Linked DNA regions of Homo sapiens. The protein of the gene in region 2 interacts with the protein of the main gene of each other region in a biochemical or structural test. Each region holds a gene or a part of one and is shown on either strand. Other genes may lie near its edges.

What was found. Proteins that work in one complex are often made in the same cells at the same time.
Region 1: the proteins of DCN (region 2) and INSR form a complex in vitro, tested with the Homo sapiens proteins (one study listed by IntAct).
Region 3: the proteins of DCN (region 2) and SFTPD form a complex in vitro, tested with the Homo sapiens proteins (one study listed by BioGRID).

The regions. Positions count from the first base shown.
Region 1 is NC_000019.10:7,111,765-7,116,448, forward strand, and holds the end of INSR (insulin receptor isoform Long preproprotein), read right to left. Parts: 3' UTR 501-4,684; downstream 1-500. UniProt on the Homo sapiens protein: Receptor tyrosine kinase which mediates the pleiotropic actions of insulin.
Region 2 is NC_000012.12:91,144,811-91,151,844, forward strand, and holds part of DCN (decorin isoform a preproprotein), read right to left. Parts: intron 6,983-7,034; coding exon 6,844-6,982; intron 1,443-6,843; coding exon 1,248-1,442; 3' UTR 1-1,247. UniProt on the Homo sapiens protein: May affect the rate of fibrils formation.
Region 3 is NC_000010.11:79,939,106-79,946,139, forward strand, and holds part of SFTPD (pulmonary surfactant-associated protein D precursor), read right to left. Parts: intron 3,775-7,034; coding exon 3,658-3,774; intron 3,400-3,657; coding exon 3,283-3,399; intron 2,966-3,282; coding exon 2,849-2,965; intron 2,410-2,848; coding exon 2,293-2,409; intron 1,684-2,292; coding exon 1,600-1,683; intron 1-1,599.

The DNA of each region.
Region 1 (4,684 bases), on a different chromosome or scaffold from region 2:
CAAGAAAGACTATTCAAAAGGCTTTCAATCCCATGGTCTAACCCATGGTCACTCACCTGTCCACCCAACCTGGGACAGGTCTCCACTCCCAGGATGACATTGAAAATACTTAACATATGAGTTTCCCGCATGTCAGAATAGAGCAAGATCTTGAAGGTTCATTGGTATTCTCGGAGTGAACCCTTTAGTGGTTGGACCATGGGGAGGTCTGGGAGCCCTTGGGGAAGCGCTTACTTACCAAATGGTATGGAAATAGTGCAATATTTAAACCACCAGTTTGGCCATACAAGTATGTCCCTACGAGTCATCAACTCTGCTGGTAGCAACTATTTAACCTCCCTTTTCATGTGTGGAAGAATCTAGGTGTTTTTCTCCTCTAAAAAAAGGCACCTACATATTCCAAGAGGTTTTCCTTAACACAGCCCAACTCATAGCCACATCCCCCGACCACACGACAGGTCCTTACCGGGACACCACACAAAAACAAGCGTATTCTCAGATAATTTAATCAGAATTTTAATATAAACAGGTCATTATCCCATATTTTACATGCAGAACGATTTCAATATTCCAAAAAAAAAGGCGTCTTCTGTACATGGTGCTACTTGGCTCTTGTAGGAAAACATTGAAAAAATAATAATTGAGCTGTTGGGGGGTTTTGTGTTTCTGAGTTGTTTTCTGCAAAAGCTGCAGCACATTTGATCCTGCGTTGCCAACGCACAGGGCCGAGGCCACCCAGGCACACAAAGGGACGAGGAGAAGCAACTTTCAGGCAAAGTGTAAAGACTAAACAAGCTGTTCCTGAATATGTGCATGGGTGCACACTTATTTTGAGGCTCTTCCTTCCTTCTCCAATGGGACCAAGAGCCCCAGATTTGTGATCTGGTTTTTAACAAGGATTTTCAGTGGCCCGCACCCAGATAGAAATTTGGCTGGTGGCTGGTTCTGGACCTTGACTAGTATCAGAAGGTAAAAGTAAGCTCAAAAAGCCATTGTGTCCCCTCCCCTCACTCCCATTTCTCGGGGACCCTTAAGGAAATATTCACCTTCCATTGCACTCCCTGAAAGTCCACCATGTTCTTTTGTATGTTCTAGGAAAAAAAAAAGTGCTGACCTGTTCTTTTCATTCCCAACCTCACCTCGCATATAAATTAATATTCTGAAGAACATGCTGGAAGATTTTCTGAAGTGACACCCCTCTCTGTGTACCATGTATATAAAATCGGCATTCCCTGTTCCCCATCCTCAACAAAACCATTGTTTCTGAAGAGCCTAAGGTGTCAAGGACTCACCAGGTGACATTCAAAGGACATTTAACCCTAAACTTCCACCCACTGTGAAGGAGAGAAATGATTAGCACTGGGACTACAGCACATCCATTTACCGGATGACCAGCGCAAGTCATATGCTGATGACGCTCCTGCTCTTTCACACGTGTTACAGCAGACTACAAATAAACACCTCCCAATCCAATAAGCACATTTCTTGGTGGACTACCTGCCCTGCTAGGATACAGTGAAAGATCTGTCTGTCAGTTGGTAACATAGTCCCCAGGGTCACAGGATGACCTATGCAGACCCTTGTGTCAGTTCCCACAGCTTCTCTCAATCATCCTCAGCCTATATCCAGACAAGCAGCAGTGCTTCTCTTTCTCACTGCTTCCAATGATGAAACAGCACCTAGGACAGCTCCTAAAACCTGAACATTTTCTGATGCGTATTTGACATCACTGATGCAGAGAGAAAGTGATGTGCTTGGTATTCTCCTCCTGGAAGAAGGAACTCCTGTGTGGCTTTCACTACATTAATGAAAAGGGTTTTAATCATAGTGAGACATCTTTAAGAACAAGCAACAAAAAGTGTTATCCTAAGCTGGTTTTGTTGCTTTTTGTTGTTGTTGTTGCAACTTAACACTACAAACTCCCAGGACAACCGTGTCTTTCTAGGACCAAAGTTTTATTGTTACAAAGTCAACATTTCCTAATGTCAAAGGAGGTTTGCAACCCAATAGCTGTTTGCTCTTTTCACTGTGGCAGTAGAGTCAAATAAATGAAACTGGTGAATCCCATTTGCAAGGGGCAGGCCCAGCACACCCTACCTTTCTCCAGGGCAGGTGGAGAAAGGTGAGTCTGCAAGGGCAGTGCCTAAAAGTACAAGAGCAGCAAGATTTGGGCCCCACTGGTCCTGCCTAGACTCTCACATGGGTTATCAAAGCTGCACAAGGTCCAATAATATCAGCTTGAGGTCAGTCAAACCCCAACACAGAGGTCCAAGGTGTTGTTGCAAAAAAAAAAAAAAAAAAAAAAAAAGCGTTCAGCACATTAATGGGTTTTGGATTGGAATTTCCCTCACATGCTCCCATCCCACTTGGAGAATTTAAAAAGACATTGCATTAGGTGTTTGTGTGTAAGGTGCATCACCAGCCTGAAAGGAGTGGGCATAAACCATCAGGGAGCCCAGGGCACCTTTGTGCTCACTTCAGGGGGATTCCATGGAACAGGTGGGAATGCTTGCTCTGAATCAAAGCCCGTCTTTGCCCCGGCAGCCATCTCTCACCAAAGGAAGGTACACCTTGCTGGGTTACCCCATATATCAGATACATCATGACAGCCTGGAACTTAGTTTATGTTTGGGGAACATAGTGACAATAGATGGAGGATTTTTTTTTAAAGGAAGATTAAATTCAGAGAAGAATATTACCAGCCAGGAAGAAAAGGATCTATGCTCGCATAAAGGCCATACCTTCTCCATCCCAACTCCCTCCCTCAAAATTCTTACTGGTCCCTGGCATTCGAATCAGCTGATACACACGTTCCCTGATTCAGACCGGTTCCAGGTAGAATTCTGAAATCTCAAAGATGTCCATGATTGAATCACATCTTAACAATACACTGAGGTAGACTGTGCTGAAAAAAGAAAATCACTATCCCCCATTCACCTGTTTATTTTTCTTTGATAAAAATTTACATGCGCTCCATTTTTTATGAGAGTGATTTTCAGAGTGATTTTATATATTAAAATAAATACTTTTTCCCCTAATATAAGAAAAACCTTTCTGAATTAGAAAAATGTGAAAATTGCAGCTAGTGTAGTATACAACCACTACAAATTTACTAAGAAGAGAACAAAATACCTAGTTCTACGTGTTTTTTTTTTAAATTTAGGTACAGACCCTCATATTTACAAAATAAATTTGGCAAAAATAATTTCTGTACTCTTGCTTCTTGTACCCAATCACTGAGGCTCCTCAGCAATATTTTTACATGCTGTATTTTCCCGAATCATATAAATAAGATAGCAATAGACAATTGGGATTCATGTCTACCTGTGTTCTTAATCAAGAATTGAGAGGGCTTGGAGGTTGCCATTATGACTCTATCCCATTCTTAAGCCCACAACTCTTAAGAGAAGAAGAAAAGGAAGCAGTCAAAAAGTTGTAAGAAAATGCACTCAGGAATAACGCATGGGCGATGATTTTTTGATGAACCAAAGTGATGAGTTCACTGTGTTCTTTGAGCAGCTGTGGTGGTTCTTTTTGCAAAGAGAAGAAACGGTGGATTCACGCCCATTCGGAAGTTCTTGGTGGTGTGTAAGGTCTTTTTCACGGTTTCTCCTCCAGACTCTACTCTCTTAGGGATTGCAACACTGTAAGCACCTGAGCATTCAGCTCAGGCACCACACCTGGCCCAGATGAGGTCACCGGGCTCAGAGCAGCTTCCGGGAGTTCAGTACTGAGGACCGTCAGATGCTCTCAGGGTGGAGGGGACCAAGACGTACTCTCAGTGCACCTCTCTCTTACATTGCTTAGATGTTCCCAAAGTCCATCCAGGTTGTTGTGCTTTGGGATCTGACGTTCTTGGGTTTGCACAATAACGGTTAGGATGTTCACACCCGGGAGAGGAAACGCCACAAGAGGTACACACAGAGAATCAGAGGATGAACACAGGTGTTCTTGAAGGCAGGCTCAGAGCTAGGTAGCTACCAGCTTATCCGAACAGGAACCTTCCAGCAGACCTGGTACCTGAACCAGACCATCCATAAAACCTAGTCTCTCACACACTCCACGTGGCCTCACAACATCCAAAAGTGTTAGCAGCGAACATGGCTTCATTCCCAGAAATGGATGCCTTTAAGACCAAACAAAGAGGCCACTTGTGCCTGACTCCCTCCCCTTCCCGGCCCCACAACAGGCAGACCAACTCATGTCCCCACTCCCCGCCAACCCCGGGGAATAGTCAATAACTTATGAGGCTAATACCAGAGACTTTAAAAATTAAATATGGTACAAATATATTCTCAAAACTCTGTCATCTCAGTTCTTTTTTTTTTTCCTTTTTCCATTTTGTTTTTTCTTTCTTTTTCTTTTTTTTTTTTTAATGTCCTAGCTTGGTTTGGTCTTGAAAAGATTCATAATCACTCCAAATGAAATGCTCCTCCCTTGGCCACCAATGTGAAGGGAGGGTAGAAACCTGAGGCTAGACTTCTGACACAAGAAGAATCTGTCGAGAGCACAGTCTCCCAGTCAATAAGAAGGAAGGAGAGAGGGGGATGAGCTCGCACCCTTGAGAAGAACCTTCATGAGCCAATTCCCAAAGCATCAACTCCGCATGGATACTTTGCACACACATCAGCCGTGTCTAATGGACACACACACGTGCATACACACGTGAGCACACGCCGGGACC
Region 2 (7,034 bases):
GCACTCATTCTGCTACTATTAGCAGAATTGATTACCTCTCATGTGAGCCACTACTATAACTTGCACATATTTCTATGACAAAATTTAGTCCACCATATTTCAATTATTTGCTATACTTAATAAATTATTTAAATTTACACTGTATTTCAATTATTTTTTCCCATATGAAACTATGATTTATAGGGGTTTTAACCATCAAATATCTAACTTCATAGAAGACAGAAACTATTTTCACATATTTGCTTATTAATTGTTGATAGCACAAATGTACAATTTGATAAATGTTTACTGTAAGTAAATCATCCCCAGGCTTATTAAATTGTCTGCATTGATAGTTGTTTATAAATTCTACAGAAAACATTTCTAACATGGGTGGTTTAACTAAAGAAAATACTTACGTCTAATACATCTAGTAATTGTAGAAATGTTCAGCCTGATTACATGAAGTCACATGATAGTTTTAATATTTATTTAGCAGAGGGGTAAATTGAAACATCAGTTCTCTAGACCAGTCAGGAAATGTATGCTTTGTGCTTTATAAGCTTACATTCAACATAGATGACATAAGTTACCATACTCAAATGTAAGATAGGGAGAGGTAGAAGAAATAGCTGAGAACTTGAAAAGATGTACTGTTATTGTCAACAAACCAATGTCTTCTCCCTTCATAAAATTGTGTTTAGGGAATATTAACAATTAAGCTTGTATACAATAGTAATTTTGAATGTATTTTTAAATTTATTTTTTCAAAATAATGACATTAGTAAAAATTTTACATAGCCTGTATTGAATTCACACATTCAAATGAGGCTTTACCAGTAATGATGGGGATTAATACAGAGCTAGTGTTTGGCATTTGACTTTATCTCAAATGAGCTAACTGCTCAATGAATTACAGAAGACTCATACTCTTTTTATTTTTTCCTGGAAATTAAAAAAGAAAAGCTTTACTAAATATTGACATATATATTTACTCCAAATTTTACATTTAGTGAAATAAGAATATCTCTAGTAGCTCAGTTAACATCAACAGAAAGCTTCAAAAGATGATTCTGAAAATGGCAGGCAAAATTTCTTTTTATTGTAGGCAATTACTTAAACTGGAAATTTGGCTTTATGCATAATAAGTCATGTGGGTAAAACATCCACATTGCAGTTAGGTTTCCAGTATCTAGCTTTTATTTATTTTTTAGCAATGACATTAACAAGATTTTGCCAGGTTATAAAAATGAGGGCTTTCTTGAGAATTACTTATAGTTTCCGAGTTGAATGGCAGAGCGCACGTAGACACATCTGAAGGTGGATGGCTGTATCTCCCAGTACTGGACCGGGTTGCTGAAAAGACTCACACCCGAATAAGAAGCCTTTTTGGTGTTGTGTCCAGGTGGGCAGAAGTCACTTGATCCAACTACAGAGATATTGTTGTTATGAAGGTAGACAACCTACAACATGAAACGATAGAAAATAATTATTATTCTCTAAATATGTTGAGGCCCTTCAGGTAAACATTTTATTTTTTTTATTATTTTTTAATCCTTCACTTTTTTTTTTTTTTTTTTTTTTTGAGATGGAATCTTGCTTTGTCACCCAGGCTGGAGTGCAGTGGCATGACCTCAGTGCATTGCAGCCTCTGCCTCACAGGTTGAAGCTATTCTCCTGCCTCAGCCTACTGAGTAGCCGGGACTACAGGCACACACACCATGCCCGGCTAATTTTTGTTTTTAGTAGAGTTGGGTTTTCACCATGTTGGCCAGGCTGGTCTAGAACTTCTGACCTCAAGTGATCCGGCCACCTCAGCCTCCTGAAGTGCTTGGATTACAGGCGTAAGCCACCACGACAGGCCCCACTTTGAATAACTGACTACTTCTCAGATTAAACTTTTGATTTCTCCCTTCCTTTTGAAAATTTGCTTTTCCCTTCTTTAGTCTTGTCTTCCCCATCTCAGTAAATTGCATGCCAATCATTTCAGATGCTCAGGCTATATACATTGTCATTATCCTTGAGCTCCAATTCTCTTATGCTCTCTACATAATCAACAACAAATCTTGCTAGCTCAGCCTTCAAAATGTACACTTAATCTAGTTCTCTCCACCTCTACTCCGACAACCTTGTCCAAGTCACCATTGTTTCCTTCCAAATGATTGAAGTTGCCCTGATTATTATTCCTGCTTCCCCTTTTGCCTTCCTAAATTTTATTCTTTTTTTAAGCTCTCAGAGCAATTGCTTTAGAAAGTAAACCAAATTATATGTTCTTTGCCTCAGAACTCCAGTGGTTTCCAATCTCATGCAGAATAATAAAATCTAAAGTTCTCAAAGGGGCCTACAAATCCTACATGATCTGACATCCTTCTACTCTGACCTCCTTTTCTCTTACTGTAAAAGCCAGTCATCTGGTCTACTTGCTGCTCTTCTAATGCACAAAGCATGATCTCTTCTTAAGTTATCAACACCGTTTACTCAACCTGGAATAATCTCTAAGGTGTCTTCAAGGCTTGTTGCCTCATGTAAGTCGTTTTTTCTTACCAGAGAGACCTTCCCTGACCATCCCATTCTGCCATTCTCTGGGGCAGAATTACGTTACATGTTTTTCTTCATAGCATTATCAATATGTAGCATATTATGCTTATTTGATATTGTTTGTTTCTCTCCTCTAGAGTAAAAGCTCCATGAGACAAGAATGGTTCTGCTTGTTTATGGCTGTATCTCCAGTACTAGAACAGACCAGGTGTTCAATAAATATGTGTTGAATGAATAAATGTTATTTCATATATCAGGTCTACATGACTATATTGGGTCTACATGAAATATTATGTTTTCAGGACAAAAAATATATACACCTTTTAACAAAATGATATAGAATGAGAAAGTGCTGTGTAGTGAAAAAGAAAAAGAGAGCATAAAGTACTGGAATTGAAATAAAGAATCACAAACTCCAAGAAATTCTTAAATATTTAAACATCACAGCATTTAGAATAGACCTAGGAAGTTTTAACAAATACATATTTTACGTAATACGTTTTACTTGAATACAGTGCAATATAATTAATCAGAGTTTTTTTTCTGAATTATGTTTTACAATCATGTTTAAGATAATGGTAATTTGGCCATAGATTTTCTTAGGGTCCCTAAAAACCGGAATTATACAAAGAATGTTAGAAATGAGTTTACAGTTCACTTTGAGGATATGAGTTCTGTAGGTCAAGAAGCAACTTCTCTGAAATCATACAAGCAAGGTTAGAATATAACACTAAGACAACAAGGTCTTTTTTTTTTTTTTTTCTGAGACGGAGTCTCGCGCTGTTATCCAGGCTGAAGTGCGGTGTCGCAATCTCGGCTCACTGCAAGCTCCGCCTCCCGGGTTCACGCCATTCTCCTGCCTCAGCCTCCCGAGTAGCTGGGACTACAGGCGCCCACCACCACGCCCGGCTAATTTTTTGTATTTTTAGTAGAGAGGGGGTTTCACCATGTTAGCCAGGATGGTCTCGATCTCCTGACATCGTGATCCGCCCACCTCAGCCTCCCAAAGTGCTGGGATTACTGGCATGAGCCACTGCGTCCTGCCACCAACAAGATCTTAAGTGAGCTATAAAACCTATGAAGTACTCCCTTAAAACATAACTTGAAAGCCTGGGCGTGGTGGCTTATGTCTGTAATCTCAGCACTTTGGGAGGCCGAGGCGGATGGATCATGAGGTCAGGTGTTCAAGACCAGCCTCACCAACATGATGAAACCCCGTTTCTACTAAAAATACAAAAATTAGCATGGCATGGCGGCACGTGCCTGTAATCCCAGCTACTCGGGAGGCTGAGGCAGGAGAATTTCTTGAACCCGAGAGGCGGAGGTTGCAGTGAGCCGAGATTGTGCCATTGTATGCAGTCCAGCCTAGGTGACAGAGCGAGACGCTCCGACTCAAAAAAAAAAAAAAAAAAAAAAAAAAAATTTGAAATATTGTTCTACCCACTAGGACATTCACATTCATGTGCTGGTGAAAACGGCTTTGTTTTTGTAAGGGCTGAAAAGCGAATTAGTAGATGTCATATAAAAACAGAAACAAGGAATATTAAAGTGAAAGCAACACTTATATGTATGGTTTATGGTTCTCATATTTTGGAAGTTTCTTGTTGTCATTTACCATCCTCTATATTCCAGTAGTGATTAGCAAGTAAAGGAAGGGGTGTTTGGTGAGCAATTTATGGTTAATATTGAAAGTGAGAGAACAAAATATCAAGACGTAAGTATTAGTCTGTGTAGAACAAAATAAAAGTAGATTCCAAACTCATTCTATGGGGTCAATATTTTCTAAGACCAAAGCCAGACAAAATTCATCATAAGAAAAAAAAATGTAATCAAATACCTCTTATGAATATGGACAAAAAATCTTTCACAAAATGTTAGGAAGCTACATTTCACAACATATAAAATGATTTCATGCTATAGGACCAAACATGATTTATCTCAGGGTTGTAAAATTGGTTTAACTTATGAAAATCAATCAAAGTAATATCAATGTAATACACTATATCAAAAATATAAAGGCCAAAACTCGCATGATTATCTCAATAGAAGCAGGAAAAACATGTAAGAAAAAAATTCATAATAAATGTTTTCAGTAAATCAGAAATAGAAGGGAACTTCCTCAACTTGATAAAGAGCATCTATAGAAGACCTGTGGCTAACATCGTAACTAATGGTAAAATGAATGCTCCCTCCTCCTAAACTAGCAAATAAGGCAAAGATGTCTAATTTCATCACCTTTGTTCAACATTGCACTGGCGATTCCAGCCAATGCAAAGGGTGGGTTGTGGGGGAGGGGGAGACCTAAAAGAATCCAAATAAAATAACTAAAGCTGTCTATTTTTAAATAATATATCCTGAATATAGAATATCCAAAGGAACTCACAAAAATTACTGCAACTAAAAACAAATTTGGCATAGTACCAGGATAGCTCAATATATAAACATCAATTGTATGTTTATACATTAGCAGCAAACAAATAAAAAAATTAACAATTCAAAACAGCATCAAAAAGAATGAAAAACAATGAATGTAGTAAAAGAATTGCAAGGCATGTATGCTAAAAATGACAAAAACTGTTGAGAAAAAGAAAAGAAGATATAAATAACCCTTGTTTGTGACTTGGAAGGCTCAATATTATTAAGATAGTAATTCTTCCCAATGATCTGTAGATTCAAAACAATACCTTTCAAAGCCTTACAAGAATATTTTTCCAGAAATGAAAAAGTAGATCCTAAAATTGATATGGAATGCAAAGGAACCAGAATAGCCAAAATAACTTTGAAAAAAAAGAACAAAGTTGGAGAACCTACATTTTCTAATTTCAAAACGTAATCAAAAGCTACAGTAATTGAAGGGTATAATACTGTCATATGACTAGACATATAGATAAATGTAATAGAATTGAAAGTCCAGAAATAAACCCTTACATTTATGATCGAGTGATTTTCAACAGTGACAAGACAATTCATTGGAGAAAGAATATTATTTCCAACAAATGACATTGGGACAATTGCTATCACATACAGAAAATGAATTAGACTCATATCATATACTAGGATTATCTCAAAATTAGATTATAAAACCAAATACAGGAGTTAAAATTATAAAATTTCTAGATGTTAAAGTATTCCTGGAATCTACACAAAACTATGGTCTATGAAACAAACAAAAATGATAAAATAGATTAATGATTCCCTGTGGCTGGAGATGAGATATTATCTCATGCCAGTCAGTATGGTGATTATTAAAAAGTCAGGAAACAGTAGATGCTGATGAGGCTGTGGAGAAATAGGAGTGCTTTTACATTGTTGGTGAGAGCATAAATTAGTTCAACCATTGTGAAAGACAGTGTAGCAATTCCTCAAGGATGTAGAACCAGAAATACCATTTGACCCAGCAATCCCATTACTGGGTATATACCCAAAGAAATATAAATCATTCTACTATAAAGACATATGCACACATAATGTTTATTGCAGCACTATTTTACAATAGCAAAAACATGGAACCAATCCAAATGCACATCAATGATAGACTGGATAAAGGAAATGTGGTACATATACACCGTGGAATACTATGCAGCCATAAAAAGGAATGGGATCATGTCCTTTACAAGGACATGGATGAAACTAGAAGCCATCATCCTCAGCAAACTAACACAGGAACAGAAAACCAAATACTGCATGTTCTCACGCATAAATGGAAGTTGAATGCTGAGAACACACGGACACAGAGAGGGTAACAAAACACACAACAGGGGGTAGGGGGTGAGCGGGCGAACTTAGAGGATGGGTCAGTAGGGCCAGCAAACCACCATGGCACACGTATACCTATATAACAAACCTGCACATTCTGCAAACGTATCTCATTTTTTTTTTAGAGGAAATAAAGAAAAATGATGAGGCCATGTCAAAAAGAATCAGGAGCTAGACCAAAGAAGCTCTTTCCAGTCAATTCTTGAATAATTTGAAAATTAAAATTAGTGACAGTAAAAAAAAAGAATTTTTATTTTACTTGTGGCTTCAAACTCCCCCTACTCACTATGGCACCAACATCACCACCCCTACTGAAAAAAATATCAGCATTACAGAAGACTTTAAGTTTCATCTCCATACTTCTAAATCAAAAACTTTATTGAAATCTAGCTAATGTAAATTGTGCTTCATGATTTAATTTTTTTTATGGTATTTTGTCATAGAAATTCTAACTAAGACACTCTGGAAAAAAAACTTCTAAGAAGAGCTTCCTGCTTCCCAGCATCCCATAAGCAGGGTGGGGGTCTTGCTTTTTGGATATTCCTCACATAAGCAGTGGCTTTGCATTACCTGGATGTACTTATGCTCTGCCAGCCCACCAGGTACTCTGGTAAGCTTGTTGTTGTCCAAGTGAAGCTCCCTCAGATGAGGCGTGTTGGCCAGAGAGCCATTGTCAACAGCAGAGATGCTGTTGAAACTCAATCCCAACCTGCAACAGAAAGCAGAAATGAAAGCAAACACCACACATGGATGCCTTTCTT
Region 3 (7,034 bases), on a different chromosome or scaffold from region 2:
GAAAGTCACTTCCCTTTTCAGGGTTTCCATTTCCTCATCTCTAAAATGAGGGCTCACTTCACAAAAGCATTGCCTGTGTGACATGTCAAGTATCTCTTTTTAGTCTGTCTTTGTGGCTCTTGGGCCCATGCATGGAAATCTTCCGCAAAGGACACTGGAAGCTCCAGAGAAGGCTGTGCCCCTGGCTTTGTTGGGCTGCTCAGAATGCAGGCTGCACCCTGACTCATCGTCCTTAAGATTCTCCATGGGCTCAGGGTGGCACCCAGAGCAGCCCTGAACAAAGTCAGCATAAGAGTTCATGTACCATTACTAAGTTTATGTGCCATGCACATATGTGGGCATGCCTTTGAATATATGTGCATCTACCCAAAGGTACGTGGGAGTATGTAAGGTTCATCTGGATGTGTGTGCATATTTGTGTGTGCTATATAGACAACATATGAGCTCATGTATGTAGATGGAGGTGGAGTGAGTGATGGTGTTTAAGTGCACACACATGCAGTGGGTGCATATGGACATGTTCCTCTGTGTGTTTCTGTCACTGTGCCTCTGAGTGAATTAGAGCATATGCAGAAAGAGATATATACCAAATGCTTGAAACTCTCATTTCAGAGCTTGGGTACTTAGAAGCCAAACCTGTGTTGCACCCAGTCAGCCCTTTTATGCTCTACTACTTCAGAAAACTTTAATCTTTTATTTTTTGGCTCAATGAGATGCGCCTGAACTCAAAGCTGATATCAGGAAAGGCGGAGGAGAGTAGGGGCAGTTGGGCACTGATGTGGAGATTCAAAAAGGCACCAGGCCCTCAGCTGTGTGTCCCTGGAGGCCTCTGACTCTTCAGGATTCCAGGGTTAGGGCAAAGTCTGCTTTAAAATACCTCCAGAGCTGCAGGTAGAGCCCAGCAGTGGCTGGAGCCCAGAAGCAGCCTGCCCCCTATTTGAACCAAGAGCACGTCTAAGGTGAGATATCTGATGGCCACATACCAAGGTCAGGCCCCCACCTGCCTTGTACCCCCAGAGCAGAACCCCAGTCCTAGTTCCCAGAACAGTATCTGGTTTCTGGGCTGCCTTGGGATGTGCAGCAGCATCACTGGGGACTCCCATACCTGGCCCCTCTGAGCTAAGAAATGCAGCCCGTGTTGGGTAGCCCCTTATCTATCAGAGGGACCAGCACAAAGTAGGCAGGAGAGAGGCTCTACTGAATTGCACTGGACTCAGGACAACAATTTATCTCAGGGCACAGGTGGCATTGAGGTTGGTGGGTAGTTCAGGAGCCTGATGGCCTTAACTATGCTACTGCCAGCCTGGTGAGCTGGTGATAGGGGCCACATCCTCCTCCTTTGCCCCCTTGGATCTACTTTGAGCTCCAGGAGCAGGTGGCTGCCCTCTTCTAGCCCCATCCCAGCCTGAGCCCTACCCCCTGCCACAGTCCCAGGTCCAGCCCTACACAGGTCCCAGCTCATTCCCATCCTAGACCCAGGGCAGGCTCTGCCTCAGGTCCAGCCAAAGGTCTAGCCCCAGCCAAAGGCCAAACCAAGGTCAAGATCTAGTGTGGGGCCCAATGCCAGTGCTGGGTCCAGGTTCAGATCCAGGAACTCACCTTTCTTATACTGAGAGAAAGCAGCCTGGAGGTGCTGTACTTGTCCCTGTAAGGCCTCAACCTGCTGCCTCAGAGAAGCAACATCTGGAGGGGAGAAAATGGCCAAGTAAAGACTTGTCCAGAGAGCGAAGGAAGAGCTCAGAGTCTGGGCCCCAAAGGAAGGGTGTCTAGTTTCGGGCACATATTGTGGGGCTGACCCACAGCAAGCCCACATCTACTGACACAGCTGGCCTCTGCTGTGTAAGGATGTCTTATGGTTCTGCTATGAACAAATTGCTGCCTGTACTTCACTGACACTGAACCAGATGACATTGTGACTTTAAAGTCTTGGAATATAATGGCATCTCCATTGGGTGGGTGGGGGGGTTGCTGGGCAGGAATACACACTCATGTGTTTCCTATCCACTGGGTTTTTAATGCCCAAAACTGTCCTATGAATTGGGAAGGCAGTTGTAGTTTTCCCGATAGTCAGATGGAGAAGCTGCCCAGGTTGCTTTCCCATGAGTACTAAGTGGCTAAGACCAGAGCCCCATGCTCCTGCCTTCCAGCCTGTCCGCCTTTCCTGAGTTCCACCCACCAGCTGCCATTAATGGGGCACACATCCCAGAGCCCCTCCTCTGGGATGAGGAGGGCTTCCTCTCTGCCCACCCATGCCCCAGCGGGGCTTCCCTGGGCCAGGAGCTGCTACCTTACCTGGAAGCCCACTTTCTCCCTTTGCTCCTTTGTCTCCAGGAATGCCTTTGTCCCCCTTCAATCCCGGGGGTCCCCTGGCACCTGGACTTCCCTGGGGACCCATGGCTCCAGCAGACCCTGGGGTAAAAGAAGAACTGGGTGAGCTATGTACTCATTTTATTTTTTTTGTTTTTAGCATTTTTACCTTCCCATACATGGACTAACTATCCTTATTGCCCAGAAATAGACAGATGGTCCCCAGTACCCAGCCATGCAGCTCCCTGTACACTGACTGTCCCTGTCACCCAGCAATCAACCCCGCTGTGGAAAACTGCCCCGCCACCCAACAACTAACCTTCCCTGTATACAGACTTCTCCATTGCTTGCGCCTCACTCTCCCTAGATAGGAACAGTCCCCAGAGCCCCCTCATGCACCCTTCTTGGATACAGATTCTCTCCATGTTCCAGCGATACCACCTCTGCCTTTGTGGGTGGTGGAGGGGGTGTAGGCATTGACAGCTCCAAGCAGGCACAGGAGAACTGGACCCAGCCCAGCCCAGCTCTTTCCACTGCTCACCTGCTGCCCCTGTGTTTCCAGGGACTCCACGCTCACCAGGGACACCTCGCTCTCCCTTAGGGCCTGCGAGGCCTCTTGCCCCTGCCGAGCCCTGCATGCCTGGGGCACCTACTTCTCCTGAAGAAGGAACACACAGGAACAAACACAGCTAAGAGCGCGTTCAGCAGGTGTGGTTTTGTTAGCAATGGAGCTTTTTGCCCGCAACTTTAGGGTCAGAGAGAGAAGTGGGGAGACTCTCCTTGCTTTCTGGGGCTCCTCTGTGGAGGGTGAGAGGAAAATATTGCAGTTGTGGGGATTGGGAGGGTGCATGGCAAGCCTTTGCAGCATCAAGGGTCTGGGCTCTCCCTGGCACTCTGAGCACGCCTCAGGTCATATCATGGACCCTTGTCCTTCCTCCTTTCCCTTCTCAGACTGGCCACAGACCAGCCACCTACCTTTGGGCCCAGCTTCTCCTTTTGGGCCTGGCTTGCCCTGAGGTCCTATGTTCCCCTGCTTCCCCAGGGGACCTTCTCTTCCAGCTGGACCAGGCACACCGGGAGGTCCTGGAGGTCCTGAGCAAAAGCACCAGCCCGGTCAGTAACAATGAATCCTCTTGGCAGGAGGAGTGTGTAGTAAGGTGAGGGTAATAACAGAGGTAAGGGAGGCAGCATTGTTGTCCTCCCAACAGCAGGTCCCATCTGTCCTGAAATGACCCAGTGCCACCTTCAGACAACCTTCTTCCTGGGATGGGCTCTGTGCGTGCCCACTGGCATATCCTTGCAGCTGCACCACCACCTGGAAACACCTGAAGTCGACACCCAGTTGCTCACCACTTGGCCCAGTGTCTCCCTTTGGTCCAGGTTCTCCAACAGAGCCATTGTCCCCTTTGGGCCCAACTGGGCCAGCTTGTCCAGGCATCCCTGCTTGCCCTGCAGCTCCTGGCAAACCTGTAGCAGCAGAAGAAATGGACAAAGACCTGGCCCTAGACCCAGAAAGGGCCAGCCTCCTGCAGGATCAGCCCCTAGCATTCCTTTAGGATTCTGCAGAGCATGAGACTTCCACCGTCACACACCCAGGCCCAGTGGTGATCCAGGAAATGGGTATCAACATCCCCATTTTATAGATGAGGAAGAAGCCTTCCAGAGTTGGAGGCGGATTAAAGCCAAGACCTGCCTGACCTTCTATGCGGTGCTCCTTCCCCTACCCCAAGGCCACTGTATTGATGGCAGGCAATTTGTCAGCTCTTACCTGTGATCATGGACTTCTTGCATTCCATATATATATATTAGGGAAGCCAACCAGAAATGGCACCAGACAGGTGGTGCTAACTTGTTCATTCAGTTATTGGTCGATTTGCTCATTTATTTGTTCACTAAGAGCCATCTATGCAGCATCTACTTTATACCTAGCACTAGGCAAGATGCAAATCTGAGCTTAGCCTCAGGTCCTGCTCAGCAGGGGGTTCATAATACACTGTGAGACAAGGGAGAGGAAGGACAATGCATGAAGTGTCCCTCATCTCATCTGAGCGTCCCCACCCCAGCACTCACACACTCAGAGCTTTCTTCTTCAAAGAGAAAGTGGGATTTTAAGAGCAAGGAGAATCGAGGGAGATTTGCAGAGAGGAGGTGACATTTCAGGCTTGGAAGCCATGCTCCCGTGGCAGAGGAGGCCAGGCCTCCATGGGGGGTGAGCATGTGGTTGTGGGTAAATTTGCTGGATGGGTGGAAGAATCTGTGCTGGCGTATCCCAGCAGCACCACCACCTGGAAACATCTGAATTCCATGCCCAGTGGAATTCCGTGCCCTGGGTCCAGCCACTGGTTACAGTCCTTATTAGGGATGAAATGGAAGCACAGAGGGTTATAGGATGGGCCCCACCTCTGACACCCAACAGCACATTTTCCTCAAGGCAGGATGCCCTGACCCCATGTGGAGCCTTGCTTGGGCTTCACCCAGGCCAAGTCAGCAGCAGGAAGATGGACCAAGAGAAAAATGTCACTCTCCAGAAGAGAGTGTTAGAGCCCACTTGTTCTTGGTACACAAACTATGGAGGCCATGAGAGCACCAGGGTGGAGGAGGGGCACCTCCCCAAATGCTGCACCCATGCCTTTCAAAACACTCACTGTGTATCGTAGTGTACCCAGAGACCTAGACCTGCACCCGAGTGCCACCTGAAGTGGAGCTTTATGGCCCAGCCTTTTGCCTGTTTTGACTCCTAAAATTCCTCCACCCCTTCCAGCTTCCATTCACTCACTCCATAAATATCTCTGGAGCCTCTAATACATGCCAGGCACTGTCCTAAATACTGGGGATAAACAGCCCTTCTCTGGGGAGCTTCAACTCTATCTCATAGAAACAGATAATAAAACATTAAAAATGTACAACATATGATATGTTAGATATAATGCCACAGGGAAAAGTAAAGCATAGGGTGTGTTGGGGGTAGGGTCTGTTTTTGGTAGGGTGGTCGGGGAGTGCCTCACTGAGAAGGTGATCCGGGAGTAAAGTCCTGAAGGAGGTGAAGTATGAGCTGCAGGGACAGCTATGAGAAGAGCAAATGGCAAGCCCCTAAAGAGGGAGGAGGCTGAGCGTGACCGGGGGCCAGAAAGAAGCTATGTGGTTGGAGCTGAGTAGGGGTGGCAGCACCAAATTCAGAGGAGCAGCAGGGGTACAGGGGTACAGGGTGGTCCTGCCGGGACTCATGGGCTGCTGTAAGGTGTGTGATTTGTCCAAGGGAGACGAGCATCCCTGGTGGGACTCCCCCACGGAATATTGCTGAGCAGGAATGCTGAAGGTGCTGAGGAATAAGGAATTGTTCCCCACAAAGGCAGGATCTGGGTCATATTTACCCTCCATGATACGTCGGGGATGTCACCAGAGTGACTCAAGCTTCACCCTCCACCCCTGCTCAAAGATCTCTTCTTTCAAGCCCCAATTTTCCTCGTAGCAGATTCTGGGAACCACATGCTTCCAACTCTGCAGGGGTGGTTGTCACAAGCACAGACTTTGGCCCACAGAGACCTATTCTGGGTAGATTCTGAGGATGCTGAGGATTCTGAGGGAACCCAGCCCTCAGACCTGTAACAGTGGAGTGACTGGAGAGACTGCGATTGAGAAGCCAGAGTGGAGCCTCATCCTGTAGCCCCACCGTGTTCTGTCCTGTGTCCAAGTACTGACCCAAAGCCAGGCCTGGAATGTGCATGGGTTGAGGCACATATGTGGGGAAGGGAGGCCTTGACCATGCTTCAGGCAGCAAGCTCCCAGGGCCATTGTGGGAAAGATCCCTGAGATTCAAATCCGGGGCCCCACTGGAGGCCAGACTGAGTTGGGAATCTCTGAGAAAGAGCTGCCAAGATGAACCCCACCCCCATTCTGGGATCCCCCCTGGACAGCCCTCCCCAAGCCCCATCCCATTCACGTTGGGAGCCACTTTCTGTCTGTAAGGGATAGGCAGATGCTTACTTGCCCCTTACCCCACAAAGCCTGGGGATATTGCTTCGTCTTTCCAGAAAGTTAAAGACTGTATCTGATCCCTTTGAAGCCCTGCCCAATGTCATAGAGGTCCCTCAGTTCATGCTGCTGGCTGATGGAATTCTCCTTTCTTGCCAGTAAGACCTAGATCTTTCCCTACAAGCGGGGAGCAGTATTTCCAGGGACAATTCCCTTACTCATCAGTACCTCTGCTAAGCTCAAGATAATTCACCTATTAGGTACAGCAGAAAATGCAACTTTATCCCAAAGACTCAAGAAAAAATAAAGCCTTTGGCTCAATGATTCATCACTGGGTGGTAGATATCATTCCCATTACCAGATAAAAAAAACAGACTCAGTGACACTGAGGGGCTCTCCCAGTGTGGAGATGGAGCCCAGGCCAGTCTGATGCAGAGCCTTCGTCCTTTCCACCTCCAGAATGGTTGCTACTTAGCCTCTCTGCATCATCATTTTCTTACCTGTCGAAGGAGATTAATATGTCCCCTGTAAGACTCTTGGGAGGATTAAATGAACTACTCCAGTGAATGCCCAAGCACAAGGGTGGACAAAGAAATGTGAGTGCCTTTTCTCCCCGTGTAATGTATTAGAGCAAATCCTCTTGATTAGGCTTGAGAATGGAGCCATGGAGCCCCATTTTTTTCCCACCCTTCATGCAGTAGTGTTTAATTAAATATTTAAAATATTTAATGCCCTGCACAGGCATCATTTAATTG